Linked DNA regions of Homo sapiens. The protein of the gene in region 2 interacts with the protein of the main gene of each other region in a biochemical or structural test. Each region holds a gene or a part of one and is shown on either strand. Other genes may lie near its edges. The genes, in order: UBE3A and PAICS.

Evidence for each region.
Region 1: the proteins of PAICS (region 2) and UBE3A form a complex in vitro, tested with the Homo sapiens proteins (one large-scale study listed by BioGRID).

Annotation. Positions count from the first base shown.
Region 1 is NC_000015.10:25,365,842-25,369,672, forward strand, and holds part of UBE3A (ubiquitin-protein ligase E3A), read right to left. Parts: intron 1-3,831. UniProt on the Homo sapiens protein: E3 ubiquitin-protein ligase which accepts ubiquitin from an E2 ubiquitin-conjugating enzyme in the form of a thioester and transfers it to its substrates.
Region 2 is NC_000004.12:56,442,729-56,446,559, reverse strand, and holds part of PAICS (bifunctional phosphoribosylaminoimidazole carboxylase/phosphoribosylaminoimidazole succinocarboxamide synthetase), read right to left. Parts: intron 204-3,831; coding exon of another isoform or gene 183-203; intron 1-182. UniProt on the Homo sapiens protein: Bifunctional phosphoribosylaminoimidazole carboxylase and phosphoribosylaminoimidazole succinocarboxamide synthetase catalyzing two reactions of the de novo purine biosynthetic pathway.

The DNA.
Region 1 (3,831 bases), on a different chromosome or scaffold from region 2:
TTATCCAAATTAATTTTTTCATGTTCACGATAAACACATGAAGAAAAGTCTGTTATATCTCAAATGTAGTTTAAATGTTTGGGTAACACCAAATCACATAATCACGTTCGTCCATGAGACCTGGAATCCTGACTTCTATTTCCAATTCTGCCATTAATTTATGTAGGCTGGAATCTCTTTTAGATTTCATTTTCCTCACATGTAATACTAAGTTTGATGTTTCATTGTCTTAAATTATTATATAATGCTGAGGATCTATGTATATATAGGCTTCATTCTCTCATTCAGTTTCTGAGAAATTACTTTGAGGGCATAAACCAAGCATATTTCTTGGTTTCATTTTTGATTTCAATTAGAATAAATCACAAGAAAGAACAATGGAAATTACATGTTAACCACAATATAGTGTATGTGTAAGACAAAATTAAACATACCTAGTGCAGCACAGAATAATCTCATTTTTAAAGCTCTGTGAGTCAATGAATAAATAAAAGAATTACGTTCATGTTTCACTAGTAAGAGTGTTCACCAATGCTGGAAGCTGGGAGCTGAAAATGCTGGAAGCTGGGTTAGACTAGGCTATTAGAAACCAGATAAAAAGGGCCAGTGACTTTTAGAGGGGATTTTGCAGAACCTCCTGGTAGTGGGGCTTTTTATCTGTGCCAATCACCTTTATCTGTGCTAATTCCTATTTTTGAACTTCCCTATTCAATTCCACATCTCAGCCATTCCTTTTGGTTTTTAGATATTTATGTGAAATGCTAGAACTCCCTGACTAATTGGAACCAAGTTTCACATCATCATCATCCTCTATTCCAAGCTTGCTGTCCCCATGATCCTCTTAAAAATCTGAGTTTCCAAAACACATAAACATACTTGTATATCAAAATGGCCTTTCTCTTTCTCTCTATATATGCACACATACACACATAAACACACATGCACACACACCCCCACCTGAGCTGAACCAAAGGCCATCTTCCCAAATATTGGAGTCTGGCTTTATCAAAATATTTGTGGAGTATTACCAGAAGTTCAGATTCATAGGCTCTACAATACAGCTTCTAATCTAAACCTCTAGAGGTTAGGGCCCTGGATTTTATTTATTTATTTATTTATTTTTTTTAAACAATTTTCCCATTCAGATGTGAAGGCAGTTTGAGGGACCTCATGATGGCAATACTATATTCTTCCATAAACTTATAACCTCTATCTTCTCCTTTAAGAAGTAATTTAAAAAATCTTAATACATACTATCATTGGAAGTGCTTCATCTAAGAAAAATGAGAAATTATCTACTTGTAAAAGAACACACAAATGGGTATATTTACATATTTGTAAATATGTAAATATTTACATATTTGTAAATATGTAAATATTTACATATTTGTAAATATGTAAATATTTGCATATTTGTAAATATGTAAATATTTACATATTTAAATTAAATTAATTTACATATTAAATTAAATTACATATTTATATTAAAAATGTAAATTTGTAAATATGGTTTTACATATTTGTAAAAACCTCATCACATTAGGAATGTCATTCAAATGAAAGGTGAAGTCTAAGCTCATGTTTATCACTGTACTGTTTTCTAAGGAACAATAACGAAAAAATACTGAAAATAAGTCCTAGGGGAACTATGGCAGTAAGTTAAACGGGTAGGGTGGGGGTGTTCTTAAGCAGTTCTAAGGTATTTGTGAAGAGACAACTTATATTCTATTGATTCTAAAATTCACTTTTTTCACATTATCTCTGAAATCAGATTACACCATACAAATGATAGCATCTTACAATGAATTGCTGGTATTTTTCTGTCTTAGCAGTAATAAAATGATAGTGTTTCCTACAATCAGAGATTAGTGAAAATACTATCAACATGAATTCTTCTCTTGTCATCAAAGACAATTTCTCTAAAAACCTCAGGAAAAAAGCTGCTAGTCTGGTTTGAATTTCACAATATATAAAAGCAATGAATATATTTTTCTTTTTTAAAAAAATCCACAATTATTAATTCAAGTTACCACTCCTCAACAGAAAACATACAAGAGTCTCATATATGAAGTCACTATTTTCTGGGCTTGATTTCTAAACTAAGGAGTGGATAACTCTAAGGTTTCTTTTAGCTCTTAAAGCCTAGGATCCCATAATTTTATTTATCAATATTAAGCTTACCACAAAGTTTCTCATTTCTTCTTTTCCACCCAACCCTGCTATACAATTCCAAAATTAGCAAGTCATAAAAAAGTGGCCACTAGTTTGTTCACTGTGATATATAAGAATGAGGCTTAAAAAGCAGAGATCCTTGGGAAATAAGATCTTGAAAAATTCATCACTTTTGAGCTTTCATATGAGAGAATAATCTTAAACCACTTTCTATTATAGAACTTCTACTATGTGTTACTAAAATATGTGGCTTTATCATAATCATCACCTGCTGTGAATACTTACTTCAAAAAATTACACAGGTTATCAATTTTACTTATAAGACCTATTTCGATGCTGGTTTTTCTAGTCTTTTCACATTCTGTTATTTTTTTAAAAAAAAGAAAAGGAAGAAAAAGCAAGGGAGAAAGAAAGTTAAGAGTAAAATCTGCTTAGTGTGAGCATTCAGAGCCCCTAAGGAAGCTTCTCTGTAAGCATCATCTCTTTCTATTTTCACAGTTTATTAAACTGCCTAACACACATGATTTCTGAAGTGAACTGCTTTTGTGGGCTGGCAATATTCAAGTACATATACTATCTAGTGAATCCTGATTTATGATAGGCCACACTATATTATCTAATTTTGATATAATTAAGCAGAACTTGCTAAAAACAAGTTACCATAATTAAAGAGCTCACAGTTAATTTTACACTAACACCTAAGGCTTTAAAAGCAGTTGTTTCCTTAAAATTCTAGAATAGAATTTAAAATATAGAATAAAGTATATACCAAGTACTTAAACTTTTGTTTTTAGTCTTGCTTTACTAGAGAAAAAAATGGGGGACTGAGGAAAATAAGACTGAGTAGACTTCTGAGCGAAAGACAGATAAGGAAGGTAGACAATTTTTTGAACCCTGGAATGATTCTTACAGTGTAATTTCATTGCCTTTTAAAGGCTAGACATAGCTTTTGATGAAGACAGCTGAAGGGATCTCACCTCAAGAAGCCAAACATAAAGTATGTAGCTTTGGCATTTGCAGTTCTGCTCCAACAATGGATAGTCATAGACAGACCTCAACATACCTTTCATAAAACATCACTCACATTCTTATAAAATACCCTATCATTCTGCTAAACTATGTAAAGTAAGGTGCTGGCTGCCTTATGATCAGTCATTAAGTGTATTAATTATTCATGTGTCTCAAAACTATGTAAGTGAAATAAAAAGGGTACCAGAAAGCAAGCAATAATAATGACTTCAGGCAGTTAAAGCCCCCTTTTGTCTCTGCTAGAAAACCACCTGAGTTGCTTAAATAATGCAGAATCTTTCTCCAACACTATAAACATATCTGACATTAAAAAAAAAAAACAAACCAGTAACAAAAAAAAAAAAAACACACAAAATCTCTGCAATTTTTAATTTCTGAGATGTCAAATAACTTTTTCCACCGGGCTACAGCTTTATGAATTCTCGAATTTAGACAATTCTAAAACTAAAATTTAGACATTCTAAAACTAAAATACATTTTAAAGTAAAAATCACATTTCCTAGTTGTCTGTGTCAGACAACTTTACTAGTATACTATAGTATTATTAACTACCTTAATTTTTGTTGACATTAAATTTTACTTGAAGATGATAAAAAAGTAGCAGCAATGACAGGGATAGCTAATACTAGA
Region 2 (3,831 bases):
TTAATGTAGATGCGGTCAGTTGTTGACTCAAACAGTAAGCAGCACATGACTATACATACAATGTATTGTTCAGCCATAAAAAGGAACGAAATTCCTGATACATCCATGCTATATAATATGGATGAAGCTTAAAAACACTAGGCTAAATGAAAAACACAAAATGCAAAAGAACAAATACTTACGATTTGACTTATATGAGGTAACTAGAATAGGCAAATTCAGACAGAAAAGAGAATGGAAGTTACCAAGGGCTGAGGAGTGGGAGGAATAGTTATTGTTTAATGCTACACAGTTTGTTTGGGATGATGAAAAAGTTCTGGAAATGGATAATGGGATGAATGTACAACATTGTGAATGCACATAATGCCACTGAATTGGACACTTAAAAATGGTCAAACTGGTAAATTTTATGTATTTATCACAATTTTCTTTTAAAAAATATCAGGAGCCTATTTTATGGCAGATATTGTTCCAACCATTTTAAATACATCTTTTTTGTTTAATCCTCATAACATTTGATAAGATACTATTAAGATCAACAAAACAGGTAAGGACACTAAGACACAGTAGTAATGTCAGCTAGTATTAGGTATAGCAGGATTTCCAACCTACCCTGTCTCTAGGAGCCGCCCACTTAACCACTTTGCTGTATTGCCTCTCCTGGAAGTGTTATTACATCACAGTACAAAGTAATGCTACAGCATTAACATGATTTAAAATATCTCCTGGAAACCTACATGGGTTTGAGATAATGCTTATTTTCAGCCTGCATTACTATTTCCAATCCCAACCTAATCCTCTAGTCTAACTTTTATTATCAGGAAAGAATTGGGGATCTTTGCTGTTATATGTGTATCTGTACATGAAGGGAGCTTCTATTTATGGAAATCCTCCACTGTGCTAAGTGTCTTATATATGTTGTCTCATTTAACTGTGCATAAAATTTTGAGGTAGGTTTTTTTGTTTTTTTGGTTTTTTTTTGAGACAAAGTGTCACACAGGCTGGAGTGCAGTGGCGTGATCTTGGCTCACTGCAACCTCCGCCGCCTGGGTTCAAGAGATTCTCCTGCCTCAGCCTCCTGAGTAGCTGGGATTACAGGTGTGCACCACCACGCCTGGCTAATTTTTGTATTTTTAGTAGAGACAGGGTTTCATCATGTTGGTCAGGAACTCCTGATCTCGTGATCTGCCCACCTTAGTCTCCCAAGGTGCTGGGATTACAGGTGTGAGCCACCGCGCCTGGCCTTGAAGTAGGTATTATTATTTATACATTTTACAGTGAAAAAAACAGAGGCTCAAAGAAGTAATTTCACACACTAGGTCATGTAGCCATTTGGTAATGGAGCCTGGACTTGAAACGCACTGTCCAAACCCTACACTATTTCCTCTGCCCTCTCTTTGAATCTGACTCGTAAGACTCAAATGAAAAAAAGAAAGAATTGTGGTATGTTGCATGAACAGAAACCCTAAGGAAAAAATGAAAAGAGGGGAAGTAAAACTGTCATTTTAACCTTTAAAAAAAAATTAGATGCAATCTGTTGTTTAACTTTTAATGAATGATCAGGCTCATGGATAGACAGGTGACTTCAATCAATTCTCAACTTGGGGTGGTAACTACATCCTTGGTTTCAAGAGCTCTTCTCTCTTAGATCTGTTAATCATTAGTCACATATTTGCTCATTTGTCTACCAAGCTGGACACAGTAGTATCCAATTTTATTGTTTTTAATATAAAGATAACTTCGTCTTAGAGAGATCCCCCCGCCAATCCCAAGGAGAACCAAAAGCACATAATGAAGCTACAGTAATCATCTCTGCACAAAAAATCCCTAAAAGTTTCTAAAACAGACTCAGTTTAGATGACATAATGATGGCTTCTAATACTGCTAAATATGAAAGCAAATTCCATGACTGTGCATGGTGAGAAAAAAATTCCCATTGTTTATCTTAGTTGTCTACAAAGCTCAAAACTCTCATTCAGGTTACTAAAAAATGTTTATGTCACTGACACACTCTGGATTACAATGAACATATATTAGCTAGAATAGTAATTCTAGCTAATACATATGTCCCCGTGGCCATCCCTCTTTTAGATTGGTCCAGATGCCCATCTGTGGTTTAGCAACTGTAGTACCGTTCTTCATATACTAGTATTACACTTAATGTAATTATAGTGAGTTTCTGTGAGGAAATTGGGATTTCATCATCACTAAGAAGGCCAGATTTTAATTTTTAAGTAATAAAACCAAATCCACAAATTGTATAACACAGTTATAACACAGTTATACTATTTCCACGGAAAAAGATTACTTCTTATTTATATAGTCCTTTACAGTTTGTTCCTGAGTGACAATGAGAAAAGTAGAATCCTGATTTTCTGATTCTCATTCCAATGCTCTTTCCTCTCTACTTTCTACCTTAATTTGGAACACAACCCAGGTTGTAAAGAAAACAGTTTTAAATAGACCACTGATGGCCAACTAGATAAGGCATTTATTTGACTAAGCAAGTAAAAATTACATAAGGTTTAATGGAATTCCTAATATGTACCCTAAAACTAGTCTGTTTAGAAATTTTAAAAAATTCAGGTTTACTTAGTTTCATAGTACTAGACATAAAATCTGGAAAATATCTTTCAACATTTCCTGTGAACCAGTTAAGTTTTAGCTATGTTAAGTGCCAAATAAAGTAGTTTAAAGATAATTATTGGAGTATTTCATTTAGGTAACCATCCTTCCCTGTTCCCCTGATCACAGGACTCTTCAGAATTAAAGCAGAAAGTCCTGGACAAACATAACACAACTGAGTCACTCTAATTTACTTGTTATAAAGTTCTGGAAATGGATAATGGGATGAGTGTAAATACACTCAGAAAATACACTAAATAAGCAAATAAAAAGTCAGGCTTTATCTTCCATTACTTAATATAATCCTGTAGCTATGTGAAACTACCAAGGGTACACAGAAAGTAATCTTCTGACTGCTAACATTTTAAAGAGTTAAGCACTTTAAAAAATGTTTAAGTGAATGGGGAGAGTTAAAACTTGGGAAGAAAAAAAAAAATCGATGGAACAGGCCGGGTGTGGTGGCTTACGCCTGTAATCCCAGCACTTTGGGAGGCCAATGCGGGTGGATCACTTAAGGCCAGCAGTTCGAAACCAGCCTGGCCAATATGGCAAAACCTCGTCTCTACTAAAAATACAAAAATTAGCCGGGTATGGTGGCGTGCACCTATAACTGTAATCCCAGCTACTGGGGAGGCTGAGGCATGAGAATCGCTTGAACCCAGGAGATGGAGGTTGCAGTAATCCGAGATTGTGCCACTGCACTCCAGCCTGGGCAACAAAGCAAGATTCTGACTTAAAATAAATAAAAAAATAAAATAAATAAATAGATGGAACACTTATCGGTATTGCAAAAGGAACCCAAAATTAATTTGATGCTCTCTTTAGAAATTACCTCAGTCATTGGGAAGCTACCAATCAAGAAACCTTGAAATAAAAATCTTAGATTCTGTGACTTAGGAACTCTGGAAGATCCTTTAAATTTACAGCAATACACTCACTTTCACAGCATAGAGGAATTTATGATGTAGATGACAATCCAGGTTTGCAATTAAATCTTTTTCACATTAATCAAAATTGTGAAATAGGATACTTTGGAAGAGACAAAACTACGCCAAGAATGCACTGACAATGTATTTAAATTACATTACCTTGTTATTTTGTGGAAGGCACGTACATCTAACTTAACTGAAAACAAAAGCATTAAATCCCCTGTTGAATTTAAGAAAGATTAGTGCTACCAGAAACTCTAAGAAATGAAAGGGCAAC